Regions from separate parts of the Homo sapiens genome. Here region 1 is linked to region 2. A link means that fine-mapping ties the variant in region 2 to the expression of a gene that starts in the linked region. Tissue or cell type: fibroblasts. Region 2 holds a variant in brackets; the other region holds the start of a gene. All regions are shown on one strand. Distances are between the middles of the regions.

Evidence for each region. PIP is the estimated chance that this variant, and not a neighbour inherited with it, causes the effect.
Region 1: it holds the start of EPAS1, and the variant in region 2 is fine-mapped to the expression of EPAS1 in fibroblasts (GTEx, PIP above 0.99).

The regions. Positions count from the first base shown.
Region 1 is chr2:46,292,615-46,300,720 of GRCh38, reverse strand. EPAS1 (endothelial PAS domain protein 1) reads right to left here and starts at 3,314. Exons shown (of 16, transcript NM_001430.5): 1 at 2,784-3,314. The coding sequence starts at 2,809. RefSeq lists silencers at 2,721-3,050, 3,281-3,860.
Region 2 is chr2:46,064,308-46,072,413 of GRCh38, reverse strand. All of the region lies in intron 10 of PRKCE (protein kinase C epsilon), which reads right to left. Among named protein-coding and RNA genes, the nearest start is that of EPAS1, 230 kb to the left of the region's middle. RefSeq lists an enhancer at 3,901-5,100. The variant T/C (reference allele first, on the strand shown) is at 4,572.

The sequences.
Region 1 (8,106 bases), 230 kb before region 2:
ATCTCATTTACATTTGCCTGAACCACTCCTCAAACCCCGTGAATCCCAGAATTTCCACATTTTTTTCCCAGTGAAAGGACTCAGGCATTCCTGATAGATGCGTGCACAAAAAGGTGAGTGAAAGTGCAGTACCCCCACCCACCAGGCTTCAGTTTCTGACATCTGTGATGTCACCGCAAATGCCCACTACCACCAAAACTGGTACTATCAAGGACACCCAGCCAACTAACATTTAGAAAGCAAACTCTTTATTATTAAACATTAACATATTTATCGACGTGTGAACATTCTGGGACAAAATCATCTGCCCACTTCTTGACGGGCCATTGTTAGAACGAATATTCCAAATGTTCTGCCCATATTGCATTTGGGGGAAGAAACTGCTCTGCTAAACCAAAGAAACACAAAATGTAAGAACTAGTGGGCAGAATCATCAGCAGAGAGCCCCCTCACTGTCACATCGCCCTTGTGAGGCACTCAGAAAAGCTACAGCAGTCACTTACATGACAACACCAACTTTCAATGTATTGGTTCACATATTTTAATTACATCTTGGTCCCTAAAGAAGCCTGCAGCCAGCAAACAGACCCAGGCACGAAAAGTAAATGAGTCTCAAACTGATTAGCCCAATAGGAATTGGACAACCCCTTAAGGGGCTCTAGATGGTGAAGGACACGCTGTTTGCCCTGCCATTCTGCAGCACAAAAATCCAGGCAGGTCGAAGAGGGCGGACACCCTCGCGTGGCCACCAGCCCGGAGCCGCAGCTCACACAGCGGCCTCCAAGGCGTTTCGCAGGCAGTCCCCACAGTGGTTCTTAAAGCGGCCGCTCTCGCCAATAATTGGGAGTCTAATTACGCAACGTTCTTCCCGCTCCCATTCCCGCTTCTTCTCTCTTTCCAACAGTCCGCTAACGAACCAGGTACTGTAGCTGGGTGTGTCGAAATCATTTTTCCCCTGCTCCCAAGTTTCTCGGTATATACGGTACAAAACTGCACAAAACCCGGCGCTAAGGAGCGCAGGAGGAGCTGACACTTCACACATTTGTCAAGATTACTGTCAGGCCCCACCTCGGCGATTGCCACATTCCCGATAGGCATCGCAGTTGTAAAATACACAAGTTCCCTCCCCGGCTCCGGACCCGAAAGCGTCTGCAGGCGCTGTCTATAACTTTGCTTTTCGATGGTTCAGTCATTATTAGCATTATGATTGGTTTTTACAAAACGCACTGGAATCTTAAGAGTCTTTTCCTTGCTCTGCTGCCTTCAAAAGACATGGAACCCCAGGACTGCTCCGAGGGCCCTGGGAATGTGCCGGCTGCAGTCTCAGGGCTCCCTCACTTGTCTTGGGTCTGAGGGCGCGACGGTGACGAGAAAGGGGGGACTACGGCCAGGAAAGGGGAGCAGGGCCCAATCCCCTCCCCTAGCGATCCCGCAGTGAAGGGCCCGGGCGCCGAGCCAGGACAGGCGCGATTCGCTCCCGTTTATCAAATCCTTATCGGTGCCCCGAGGTGGGAACCGCTGCTTTCGACCGGAGGATACACGGTTTCTGGCTCCAGTCCCGTAGTGGAAGTTGGAACAAGAGCAAATCAACCTCGGCAGTGAGCCCTCCCGGCCAGTCACCTCCCTCCCTTAGCGAGTCGGTCCTCCTCATCCTCGCACCTCTATACCGCCGCTCCGCCGCTGGTTTCCCGCGGCTCAGGCGGTTCAGCCGGCCGCGCGTTGGATTCCAGCTTCCCGCAGCATAGCCTCGCCAAGCCGCGGCCAAGCGCGGGGCTGGAAGCTCCAGGCCACTGGGGCCGCACGGGTGGAGACAGGAGGAGAAAGGGGACAGGCGGCGAGCCGCACACATTTGCAGAAGTTGAGGCCCTGCCTGCTTCTGCGCGGCCGCGCAGAGGGCTCGAACCCTCGCTCGGGTAGCGCCGGGCCCGGCTGGACTGGGAGCGGCCGGGAGAGGGCGAGAGGGCAGCAAGAAATGGCCAGAGTTGCCTCTCACCCAGTGCCGAGAGGCTCGCGAGGGCAGGCGGGCAGATCGTGGCTGCCCTTCTCTGTCCTCTTCGGAGACAGACACCCGGACCTGCCAGGGACATCCAGTGTTGCCGTCCGCTTCCTACACACCGAACCATCTGCCCCCGCAGGGCAATCCAGGTCACTCACTACCTACTCTCCCCAGAGTCAAGGTGCGGCACGAGGAAGTGGGTTCTCCAACCTTCGGTGGGGTCTGGAGCCCGGCAGCGGGGCGCTCTGAAGGGTCCTGGCTCCTCGGTAGGATCGTGTCCCTGAGCCGCTCTCCGCCTCCCGCCCCCCTTTGCCCACTTGGGCCGCGGCGCGGGCACAGGAGCGCATTTGGAAGGACTCCGCGAATCCAGAGAAAAATAGAGACGTGGATGCTGCCCCAAAATGAGAGACCAGAGAAAGTCGAGGACATGCACCCACAAACATTTCCAAGCGCCGGTGGCCACGGTAATCTGCTGCGGGGCGGCTGGGAGATTTTCAAAGGCACCGCGGAAGCACCTCCGACCTCCAGGCCATCTCCCTCGGCCTCCTGGCCTCGCCGTGCGCGCAAATCCCCGACTCCTCCGAGCCGCAGAAGTCTCCACTGCAAAGCTGCTGATCCGCGCCCCCAAACCGGGCACATGCTCTCCCCCTCACAGCCCTCCAAACCGAGCCTCGAGCTCCGAAGACCTCTCAGCACTCTTCTCCCAACCACTCTCGGTCGCGCCTGCCCCGCGCAGCCCGGCCCTGGCCTCGGACCGGCCCCCTGATCGGCCCGGACGCCCGCTTACCTTTTCTTCTCCTTGTCAGCTGTCATTGTCGCTGTGGCCCTTTGAGACGTTCAGACGCCGAGCACCTGGGCTCCCTGGCGGGTGGGGGGCTGTGGCCCTCGTCCGCTCCCCGCGGCCCGGGCGGGTGGTGAAGGTCCGAGGTGCGCGCAGGTCCCGAGCGCCCCGCGCAGTCAGGTGGAAGGTGGCGCGCGGCGGGCTAGGTGCGGGGGCGGGGGTGGAGAAAGGTGACTGGGAGGAACCTGCGCGCGGAGGCGGGGTCCGGGGAAGGAGTGGGTGGAGGCTGTCAGACCCGAAAAGAGGACGGAGAGAAGGGAACCCAAGTTCCTTTTTCCCTGGAAAAGGAGTCACTTTTCTGAGTTTTCAAAGAAAAAAAAAAGTGGCTCGAATGCTGGGAGTCGGAAGGAGTCGGAGGCCGGGCTGAGCTGACCATACAGTCTCAGGACACTGCCGAGGATTGTACGGCCGCCTCAGGAGCGCTGGGGCGGAAGCGCAGCGGGCACCGGACCCGTGTGGCGGTCCGCTCGCGAGTGTAAAGCTCCCGCGGCCGGCAGCCCACTTTAAAAACTCCGTCGGCCGGCTTGGGGCGGGCACGGGGCGGGCGCGGAGGGCGGGGGGCGGGCACCGGCGCGGGTGTGTGGGCGGGCACGCGCCGGCAGGCCCCGCCCGCGCCGAGCTCCGGGCGGCTCACTGCGTCCCGGCCAATGGGGACGCGCGGCCGCAGCCTCTGCCCTGACCCTGGCCCGCCTCCTGCCCCCGCGCTGCGCCCCGCCTCCTGCCTCCGCACTTCGAGGACTTGTTTATGAGGTCGTCTGGGCGGCGGGTAGCGGGGTGGGACTCCGCGTCGGGGAGAGGCAGCCTGCGCAGGGCCGAGGGGCGGCCGGGAGCCGGGCTCCGGGATTGCTGCGGGGGACGGCAGTTGCGCCACAGCGTCGGTGTCCTCGTACCGGCGCCGTGCCCTTGGAACGAGGGCAGGACCGCGGGCAGCGCCGGGCCAGCGCGGAGCCCCTCCACGCTGCTGCGCTCCTGCGTCCCTGGCCCTCGGGCCAGGTGGGGATAATTTCTCGGCCCCCAGCGGCTGCGTTTCGGGCGTGGGCGATGCGCCCTTTTCGGTGGGACGCAGCTGACTTGACCGTCTGGGAGAAGCAGTGCAAGGAAATTGATCTAGGGCTGCGCCTACTCTTCCTTCCCTCTCCCAGCAGGGTGGTTGCTTACCGGCTTGTGCCAGGCGGTTTGGTTTTGGCGGGGATGCGGCAGAGGAGGCCCTTTGAGCCGCCCGAGGCCGGGGCGAGTTCAGAATTGGAGAAGTCAGTCTGGTTCCCCAGTGTGATCTTGGAGTGACAAGAGTTGGCCATGTGCCCTCAAGTCACTGCATCTCAGGCCTGCCCTCTCTGCCGCCAGGGTCGATGGAAGTCCTGGGAAACCCAAAGGCTACAGGTGTTGGAAATTTGTAGATTTAAGGGCTCACACAGGCAACGGTTAGCGCTCAGGGATTTTCCAGCGGCGCTTTTGACGCTGCCTTCCATCTCCGGGCCCAGTGCTCCCCTGCCCCGCGCTGAGCTGTCTCCCACTCGCTACCGGCGATGGGGAAGGGACATCTGGGGAGAGGACAGGGGACGCCCTTAGTTTTTGAAGGCTGTGGAAGGACCCATGAGTTTCACAGGTGTAACTTGAAGTTGGAAAGCGAGGGCCAAAGAACTGGTCTATATCTCTCCCTTTAGCCTCTTGCCACATTTTATACTAGAACGATCTACAGAAGCGATTTGAAGAGAAGGGTAGGTTTCAGCGCCATAATAAAAATGAACACGTGTTTTCCCCGTGTACACAGAAAGGGTTGGGGGAGATACTTTTCAGGAGCCTGGAGAAGGCGAAGTGGGGAGAGGGCAAAAACTGACGAAGAATTGGGAAATACTTTTTTTTTTTTTTTGAGACTGAGTCCCACTCTGTCGCCCAGGCTGGAGTGCTGTGGCCCCATCTCGACTCACTGCAACCTCCGCTTCCCGCGATTCTTGTGGCTCAGCCTCCGGAGTAACTGGAATTAAAGGCGCCCACCACCACCCTCAGCTAATTTTTGTATTTTTAGTAGAGACGGGAGTTTTACCATGTTGGCCAGGCTGGTCTCAAACTCCTGACCTCAAGTGATCTGCCCAACTTGGCCTCTCAAAGTATTGGGATTACAGGCGTGAGTCACTGTGCCCGGCCGGGAAGTAGACGTATTTTGTCATTTTCTCAGATCTCGGGGCACGGAGCACCTATACAGGTTGATAGTCAACGAATTCAAAGATTGCAAATCTCTCTCTAGCGAACTATTTCATGGGGCTGGTGGGTTTCAGGAACGGGGTGATTTGGTACTGGGCTTCTCCAGCCAGCCATTTCTAGTGGACACATTTATGTATTTTAATGAGTTCAAATTGGTAGATAGTTCTCCCTTAACCATAGGCTTATTTCCCTCACTTGGGACTAGAGTGCGGGAAAAGGGCACCTTGGTGGCTTCCAGGTGCCTACAGTAGTTCACCACAACAGCCTCTGAGTCCTGGACTGTGCTTGACAGATCGAGGCAACACCTCCAACCCATAGAGAACATAGCCTTTTAGATCTTGTTTTTAAAGAGGAAAGGCAAGGAGGGGTCACTCAAGACCACATCAACCTAAGAAGACATGGACACATGGGAGGAACAGCACAGACTGGGGCGTGTCAGAGGGTGAGGGGTGGGAGGAGGGAGAGCATCAGGAACAATAGCTAACGGATGCTGGGCTTAATACCTAGGTGATGGGATGATCTGTGCAGTGGACCACCATGGTACACATTTACCTATGTAACAAACCTGCACATCCTGCACATGTACCCCTGAGCTTAAATGTTAGAAATTCCATCAACCATGTTATATAGCTCCTTCCTCTTGGCCAGACTGCACCCTATAAGTGAAGGATCCCCAGGCTAACACAAACAGCTGGCATTGAGTCTGGGATTTTTTTTTTTTCTTTAGACAATCTCACTCTGTTGCGCAGGTTGGAGCGGAGTGGCACGATCTTGGCGCACTGCAACCTCCACGTCCCGGGTTCAAGCTATTCCCCTGCCTCAGCCTCCCAAGTAGCTAGGACTACAGATGTGCACCACCATGCCCGGCTAATTTTTGTATTTTTAGTAGAGATGGAGTTTTGCCATGTTGGCCAGGCTGGTCTGGAACTCCTGGCCTCATGTGATCCACCCACCTGGGCTTCCCAGAGTGCTGGGATTATACGCATAAGCCACCGCACCTTGCCAAGTCCGGGATTTTGGCAGTGTCTGAGATACACCAAAAACTCATTATAATAACTCTCAAAAGGGTTGCACCCAGCCTTGCTTAGAGCAGAGCCGGGTGGCCTGAGATTTCTTCCAGGACTCAGCTCAATAACCTTTGCAGGAAGGAGCTGAGAGTGTAAACCAGATGCAGGCTGTGGCTAGGGTGCATCCAATTTTACTTTTTAGAGCCTGTGGAGAACTAGAGGAGAAAAACTTTGAAAGGTGATGCTGGGGCAGTGAGTGGGGGATGGGGAGCTGGGTCCCCGGATTCAGAGGGGTGTCTTTAGAGACACTGATGTTGTGGCCACAGAGGGCAGCAGAGGACACCGGTAGGCAAAGCTCCCAAGCTGCTTAAAATAGGAGCAAACTGCCCACCTCCCAGCAAATCTCCCTACCTGCCCCCCAACCCTGTATTGGATGGTTTGGGAACAAAAGCTGTGGCACCAGTGAAACACCTATTTGTTTTGACAAGGGACAAATCTGATTCTCTTGCTTCCTCTTTTCTTTGTAGGGTGTGCCCTCAGGAGGATGGGATAGAGATAAAGTGTGAACTTACAAACCTGGCAGAGAGCAGGCACCTGGGATGCAGTGGGCTGGTGGAAGAAAGATGGCCTCAGTACTCCCATCGAAGTAACAGTATGTTCCAGGATGCAGTTGGAAATTAGGTTGGAATGGATGGGATCTAACAGGAACAGCTCTTGGAAGGATGGGCTATCTCATTAGTACCTTACAACTTCCAATGCATTGTCACATATTGGAGTTGGGACCAGGGTGAGGCAAAAGAGGCCTTTAAGAGTCATGCAAGTACACTGGCCTCTGTCCTGCCACATGCCTTATCTCACGTAATACCCATCTGACCCTTGTCTGGCTATTTAGTTGGTTTCGGGGTGGAGAGAGCAGGGGAGGTAAGGAGCAGAGATGGGAGAGAGGACAAGCTGGCAGAGACTCTTTCTCTATGAAAAGCCTTGCCTGAGTCACTCCTTCCCTCACACTTGCATGTTACTCCATCCAAACGAAACCAGCCCCTTTTGTGACTTCACAAAATCTATACTCACACTCCCTGTCACTGAACTCCAGGTCCAGAAAACTATGCCCCCTGTGTTTGGCTTTAGGCCAATGTCGTGAGATATTCCACACAGACATGTGCTGTATCTTCTTTTAAATGTTGTGACTTTTGACCCCACAAATCTAGAATTTGTCATCTTTCAAAAAGAGTTCTGTGATTTCTTTTTTTTTTTTTTTTTTTTTTTGAGGCAAGAGTCAAACTTTTTTTCCTCCTTGAATTCCTAAGTGCTTGCTGGTAAGAAGGATGCAGTTTTAAAGAACCCCAGCTTCTCCATTCCTCACACCTGTATACTGATGACTTGGAGACTAACATCTTCCATTGCTAGGCTTAGGAATGAAGTTTTGCCTCTGAAGGGAGTTGTGCATTTGTAACTGTCATTCAACCAATGGTGAAAGAGTCACTGGTCCAGGGCCAATGTGCTCTGCTGCCTCCGGGAAAGCATAAGACATCAGTCTGTGGAAGAGGGCACTGGTGGTTTCCTTCCCTCCAAGAGGACATAGTTCAGTTGGGTACATACTGCATTTCCCAGATTTTGAATACACACGTTTTAAGGCTTCCAAAATCAGGTATCTTTTGACATGGTAATTCCTTTTCCTCCCCCAATTTTTAATTTGGTAAATATGTACAATTTATATGCTCTTAACATTTTTAAATTTGAAAATCGAGAGCAAAATCTTATAGCCTAAACAACAGGAGTGGTAAGAATTTGGTGGTGGTGAACAACCAGAAAATCTGGAGTCCCAGCCATGTCCACTGCTAGGACCCAGAGAAGCCTAGCCTGGACTGGCCCAGCTGCCGGGCTGATGAGTGTGACCTCTGAGGTGATAAAATAACACCCATGTGGGAGGAATGGCCAATAAGAAGGACATGCCAGCCCCACCTTAGAAAAAGGCATGAGTAGAAATGAAGGTGCTATATCACTAAAAATGATGACATTGGGCCCCAAGCATCCGATTTTCTCTGGCACCTGGCTAAGAC
Region 2 (8,106 bases):
TGGTTGACATCTCCACTCTGCTAAATCCCCTTTCATGTTCTGACTGCTTTAATAAAGCCGAAATTAAAATGTGCTAATCCGGGGGAAACTGGAAACTTGGAAATAATACACTAACGTAAACATACAACTCAATCCCATGGATTCTGAACACTTGATCACATTGTTTTAAATCTTAAGTGGCACAGCTGGTGGCTGAAGGCACGCTGAAGAGGATTTCCATACCACTTCACTAATACTTTCATTTGATGACAGATAAAGCGTGAAAGGGTTTTTTAAATTATTAAATTCTTTGATCTCCATATTTCCATTCAGATTTACTCTGAACACTGAGCAGTGTGGTGAGATAAACTTATAAATATTTGCTATAATAGCGCGGGGTCTTCTGTGAAGAATTGTTGAACCATTGTTGTGCTGTCGGAGGAAGGTGCTGAATTCCCGCGTGTGTTTAAAATACACGAGCGCAGACTCCAGTCTACACCCTGTAGTCCGCATTAAGCAGGCATAGGTAGCTGTAGGAGTGGAACAAAAGCAGCCTGTGTTTAATCTGTTCACAAATCTTTTGTTCCTAAATACTTGGAAAGGTGGTTAGACCAAGTAAGGGAGAGATTCAGGACTGGGTGGAAGCTTTGATTTAGACTGATGGCTGACAATGCAGATAGGAGGCTGGTCTCTCTAAACACATAAATTCGTTATCTAAACAGAGTGGGTAATGTCACAAATGCCTGGGAACCTAACTGAAACAGTTCATGATTTGACTGTAGTCAGTCCCTGTTTGGGCACTCCTTCCATGGACGTTTTTAAAGTTTCCTATAGCTTTCCTCATCCTTCATTCTCATTGGTGTGGTATAGGGGTCCAAACTTGGCCTTGGAATCCTGACTGCCTGGGTTAAAATCCTAGCTCAGCTGCGTGAACAAGCTGCATGAACTTGGACAAAAGGAAATGCTGGTTTCCCTATTTGTAAAATCGAGATTCAATAGTAGCTACTTCATGGAAAACTAAAATAAGGTGTCTTTATTGTAGCTGCCTACCCCTTAAAAATTGCTCAGGAAAATATTAGTTCTGATTTTTCATTCACTAGTCTTCATTCAGTAGCAGCCTATGGCTCCATGATAAACAAATTTCAAATCAGCTGACTAGTACATATTTATAGAGGACTTCAAAAAGGCTACAATCTCTTTGGAGAGATGAGAAACTCCAATGAAATACGTTAACATTATTCGATGGTATTTTATTATTTGGAAGTTTCCATAGAAGAGTGGAGATTTAGGGGGAAGGTGTCAAAATGAGTAGGGTGTGGGTTTTCTGGGTGCAGGAAAGCCATGAGGACATGGGCATCTCTACGCATTTGGTTTACTTAAGAGAACAGTGATGAGACCTAGCTGTTTGGAGCAAACCATCTCCATCTTGGCCTTTTTGTTTGCTTAGAAAATGATAATCTAAGGCAAATGAGAGGACATAATTAACAAGTAAAGAGTAATCATGGCTATCATTTATTGAGCACCTCCTATATGTCAAATATAAGCTACTTTTCCATTGATGCAAGAATTATGAAAGCAAATGTTAACATCCACATTTGACACAAAGATACAGAGGCTCAGAGGAGTTGACTTGCCCAAGGCCATGGAACTAGTAAGTAGCACAGCCAGAATTTGACCCCGTGTCTGTCCCAAAGCCAGGGGCTCTTTCTGTTACTCCAGGAGTCACCCTCACCATCATTCAATAGAGCTGTCAATAAAATGCCACCTTTGTTTTTGTTTTTGTTTTTTTTTTGAGACGGAGTCTTGCTCTGTCGCTAAGGCTGGAGTGCAGTGGCATGATCTCAGCTCACTGCAACCTCCACCTCCAGGGTTCAAGCGATTCTCCTGCCTCAGCCTCCTGAAAAGCTGGGACTACAGGTGCATGTCACCACACCTGGCTAATTTTTTGTATTTTTAGTAGAGACAGGATTTCACCATGTTGGCCAGGATGGTCTTGATCTCCTGACCTCGTGATCCACCCTCCTTGGCCTCCACAAGTGCTGGGATTACAGGCATGCGCCACCGCGCCCAGCCATAAAATGCCATTTTTTTATACATCAAAAATGAAGGTGCTTGAGGCTAACATTCAAAAATGTGTATTGAGGGTCCACACAGGAAGCCTGTGCTCTGGTTATATTTATAGAGGTGGTCTCAAGTCTCTAGAACACAAAGTCTCTGCTACCTCGTGAAGGAACACAACAGTTCTCCCTGTGACCAAAGGACCCTTGCCTTCTTTAGAGTCAACCTAGAGTCCAGGTGAATACAATGTCATGTCTTTCATACAGTGGGCTGCTTTGTAGCAAACTCCACCATCTGGACGTCACTGTAAATCAGTAAGAGAGAAGAGGTCCTCTGAGCAGGAAAAGAAACACTAGCACCAGGACCCACGTGCTACTCAACAGCAGAAGTGAACACCATGTGTGAATCTGTCGGCTAGGTACCACTTTGTGGTTCTATCAGTAAAATTCAGGTTAGGATTTCAACCTTAAGAAAATTCCATTCTTCCCAGCTTAGGAAATAAGGGAATAGGTGACCGCTAGAATTGCCCCAAAATTGCCAATCTGGAACTATTTAAAGCAGGAATAGCAATCCTAACATCTTATAGCCCTTCTTATAGCCAACTGTTACACCAAAGTTGCCAAGAAAAACTAAAATAAGATTCAAAAATCTTTTTACCAAGACTTTAAAATTTGTGCTAATTTTATTATAACAGTGATGCTATTGCTATGAATGATTATGCAATGATTTAGTTTGGAAATTTTTTCCATCAAAGTGGTATACTGATTTATAAGGGCCCATATAAACTGTGTAACATGGAAACCTGAATTTCCTGATAAGTGCTAGATAAATGAATGGAATCAAAATACAGGAAACTGATTTTTTAAATGGTTAGAAAACATATGAATGACTTTTATGTTCTAAACTCTAAGTACCCTATAGTTGTTCTTATTGTTGATTGGAGTATTTTTTTTTGCAAAGTATATACTTTAAAAAATCCTTACTTACAGAAACATATTTTAGACGCATACCATATCAGAATCCAGAAAAGGCCTACTGACAGCCTTCAGAAACCACTTCAGAGAACAGTCATGTAATTTCAACTTCAATAGTTAGTGACTGGCAATTTGGAGATATTTCACTTTCCAGGTGGTGAGCAACAGGTAAGTGAGAATACAGCAGAGGCTACCACGTAAAAGAAAGTCTCTGAAATGCCCTGGTCTGTCTGCTCACTAGAAGACATGCCACTTCTCCTCTTCAAAGCATCTTCAATGATTCTTCAAAGCATCTCCATTGTCATTTGGAACCAAGCCCCAGTTCTAAGCAGCAGTGCTTTCCACACTTGAGCATGCAGAAGAATCAACTGGACAGTTTTTATAGCATAATTCCTGGACTCCACACCCAAATATTCTGATTCTGCAGGTCTAAGTTGGGACCGGAAATCCTGCATTTCTAAGAGGCTCCCAGGTAATGCAATGCTGCTAGTCTAGGGATCACCCTTGGAGTCACAAGGACCACAGCTCCTGTCGTCTGGTGGTAATCTAAATTTCAATCTGGTATCTCACAAGTCCCTACTTGAGCTGATCTCTTTTAATATCACAACCACTTCTTGCTCTTGGTTACTTCTGAGGCATTTGGGCAACTGCTCCAAGTCTCTCCCGTCTACATGCCAGGCATTTCCTATCCTCCTGCTCATTGGTGATGCCTTTGCAAATGAAGACAGCCCTTGGAGAATTCTTCTGCTTCTGAATTCACGGCAATCCTTAAACTACACATCTGATGATTGATCTTATTCTGTATGTGACAACCTTCTACCATTGCCTTATATTGTTACATCAGAGAGAGTTTTTTAAAGTTGGTATTATTTTTCTACCCTTCTTCAACTGGTCTTTCTCAGTCCTCATGAGTAGGAATTATACCTTGCACCTAATGGTACACCAATAAATAATGACTGATTAATTAGATATATCAATTAATATATTTAATATCATTTTGGTTCTGCTCTGCTATGATTGTCTGAACTACCAAGGTGGGTGAGCACCATTACTCTAGAAAACCTAATTCAACACTGTTTTATTGTCTTGTTTCCCAGGGCAGCTCCTGAAGTCTCTTTCTGAATCCTTTACTGGACCTAACAGAGTAGGCATGCTCGTAAGTTAGATAGCCTATGACTCAAGTGGCTCACCAAAATAGATTATTTTTTTCATCCTGGATACAGACCAGCTAAGGTTTATACTAATTCATGACCCTCTGTTAAGAATCTCAAAGGGAGATTCTACCCACTGATAATGTAAAAGTGCAGACAAACCCCCAGTCTCTCTCTGAACAATGAAAACGAAAGATGTTTCCATTGCCTTCTGACTAATCCCTTCGCGAGTGATATAATCAGTAAGCCAGTAAGGAAACCCTGCCTTCAACGAGAGTATGATGTAAAAAATGTGCATTCTCTTGCAATACTGACCCATGAACAATCTAATGCCAGGAAACCCACAACAAATGCCTGGAATACCGGCATTCCAGATTCACATGACTTTTACTGTACCCCTACCTTGCGT[T/C]ATATTCTTGGTCTGTAGCGTTAGGAGAGTTAGCTAAGTAGTTATTACCAAGTTGTCTAGCTTGATAAGGATGGGCAAGCCCTCCACTGTAGACCCCCAGGCTCTGCTTTAAACTAACGGGAAGTTTTATGCGTTAATTTCATGAATGCCATTCAATGTTCAGCAGATACATTGTGAGCATCTACTAGATGCAAGCAGCGTTCCTGCAACACATAAAGTGCTCATTCTTCTTTTGCTCAGAACTCTAAGATGTGTCCACCCTTGAAATTACACATGGTGTTTCATTTTGCACCACGTAGGCTGGGCCCAAACCTGAATACGCACCAAACATGTGGAAGAGACGAGAAAGACTGCAGGGAGCAAAGGCCAGGCCACAGCATAAAACTCACTGCCTTCGGCTAACAGGTACTCCTGTCACCTCTGCCTTCCAGGTAGCGCCAAAACTGCCTCTCAGATGTCACCTCAGGCTGTTTATTGTGACTCTGAACCACTACTTTAAGTACCATTCTTTTCCTATTAATCCAAACTGTTTAAATAAAATTATTTTGATGGATGAAGACTCAGTATATATAATGCACGTCATTCATTTGGCACTTGTTCAAATAGGATATGGTGATATCTTGTATAGGACCAGGCTGAACATTTATCTGTAGAAAGGAATGCATTGCTTGGCCAATTAATAGCCAATGCAAAGGTAGATAATGTTTTAAATAATTTAAGAATAGAAAGAAATTTTTGGCACAGCAGTAACAACTACCTATTTAGCAAATGTGCTGGTTAAAATGATCCTTATCTTTTTATCATGTCAGGCTCTTCAGAACTTCTACCTGACAACAATTTTATTAGCCGTTCTAGTTCCTGTCCATGCACAGAAGTAATACAATGTCATCACTTTGAACATATTCCATATTACTCAGATTAACCACCAGTTCAAATGGTTCAAATGAGTTTCCTTTACCACGTATCTATGGAGAAGATAAAACTCTGCCAACTTAGTTAAAAAAGAAGCAATGATAAGAATCATTCTTTGGGGTTGACTTCCCACCACCCCAAAGACACAGCTCACCACAGAACTAACTCTTCTCCTCCTGTCTGTGAAGCCCAGGACATAGTTCCCACGTACTTATAACCAAGGGTCAGCCAGTGACAACAGTTGCCTGTAGCCTAAGAGCACAGCGAGAAACTTCTGTCCTGCTCTGATCATCTAAATGGAAAATTTACGAGATATACAGACAAATCAGTTCACAGACTATGCCCCAAGCACTAGAAATAACTTATTTCTACAATGTATTTGTACAAAATGTTCTGGATAATATAAAGTTGTTAAATGAATATAAGTCTAGGATTCCTAATTGGAGTGGATCGTTCCCTGCCCTCTTCCCCTGGAGATGGGAAAATCAAAAAGCAACAGACAGCCTTAGCCAATTCAACCTCTACCTATCTATTTTCATTCATAAATTCGGAGGGAAAGAAAGGAAGGAAAGAAAGTGAGGTCTCAAAAAAATGAAGTGAGGTAGGTGACTCATTACTTCAACATTTTCTTGGGGGTAACTTTAGCCAAGCCAGTGCTCAAGTAGGTGTATAGGCAGAAATAGGGGGAAAAACAGATACATCAAAACAAAGGAAGTTTATAAATGCTTCCCCTTCACCTGATATTGTACAGGGCCATCTCACCACGCTACAGCCCCTGCAACCCCTCACCACTTCTGTGTCTTTCCTCTAGGTCACAGCCTGCTGCTCCACACTCTGTCATGGGAGATGCCAAGGTTAAAATGACAGTTGGACTGTCAGCATCCAGCTTTTTGGAACGTCTGTTAAATAGTCTTGACGGATGCTGGATCTTTGCAAATGGGTGGTCGGGGACCAATACAGTCTCAGAAGAGGTATTTAAGACAAATTAAACAGCAGTGTTCCCCTGGCCCCATGGGCAAGAGGCAAGAGTGGGTTAGCTTCCCAAGAGACCGTGCCATCAGCTAAAGCATGAATCAACTGATCCATTCTATTTTTTAAACGTTTGCAAACACTTTCCTGGGATCAGTACCATGGCTCAAAGCACCTGTGATCATTTATGGCTTGGAAATATAATAAAGATATTTTAGGATAATTTTTTAATTGGAAAATATTTAAATTCCTTTTTGCCATATGTTTCTGACCTCCAGTGACCTCAGATCTTGATTAGGAAGATAAAGCAAAGACCAACCAGAAGTATGTAATTTTAGAACAGGAAAGTCGATCTGAAAAGTAATTTCTCTAAATTTAGTTACAGTAGCTCTTATCTGAACTGTGGTCCTTACACACCAATAACTTTTGGCTATTCAGATGAGAAGAACAACAAATTTTTTACCAAAATTGTTGTGTTCTTTTTCTGACTCAAGCTTAACCGGACAAATGAGAAGATGGAAGGGCTACTGGTGGAGTCAGAGAAATTCTTTACGTGAAATGACGTCTGCTTTTACTTGTTGGGAAACAGATTATTTTAAGAGAATATTAGAAACTATGACAAACCCCAAAACTGTTTCCCGTCAGAATTCTTGGAGGAATTGCTTAGTTTACCCACAGACACACTCCCTGGCCCCTGAATACTAGATAAACAGCATTCTTTCAAGATACAGGTCTTGAACAGTCATTTTCCCCTTTTCTCTTAATAGCAGGCTTTTAGGTTTAAACTATCCAGAAATTACATTACCACCCATGTCTCCTCCTCCTTTACCTGTTTGCAGAAAAGAAGCTTGGTAAATTATTATCGTATAATCTGTGATGCCAGCGCTGAAGTGTGGAATAATTTAAATATTTTGAAGGGTCGAGGATGTACAGGGTCAAATAACTTAAGAGCATGGCTTCTCAAGCTAGAACATGAAAAATTTCTCTTCTTCTAGTTGAAAATGGGGAGCCACATCTACAGAAAGCTTGGGCTTGGTGTTGGCAACAATGGGGCCTCCCCTTTCCCACTGCCCCAGTCCTTTTCTCCCCACACCCACATGAAAGGACGATACATTCCACAGGCCATGGATGAGCATCAAGTAGCAAAATTCTATAAGACTAAGAATCCCCCAGAAAGAGCCCAAGAGAATTACCAAAAAAACTTCTGTAATTTTGCCTCCAGTCCTAGTTTATTATATGTTACCAGTTTTAGGCCAATGAGGCATTTTCCAACTTCCCTAGTTCGTACTGTCACCAAAATCAGAGTCTAACTATGCTTAGAAAATGCTTCTTTGTATCTCCCTAATTCTTCTTCTATCTAATCTACAAAGGAGATAATATTCAGTCAGACTCTGCTTCTGGTGCAAGCTGCTGATGAAAATCTAAATCCCTCATGCTATGATTTAAGCAGTTATTGCCAAGACTGTCCTTTCTATTACCATCTAATATCATTTATTAAAGAAACCATTAGTGCAAGGAAATCTGATTAATTTGGGATTGCCAATTACTGAGAAGTGAATCATTAACAAATTCATATGAACTTCATTTGCAAATAGAGAACTTTTGAGTGTCGAAGGAGAACGACTATATTTTTAAGGGCAGTTAACAATTTTCT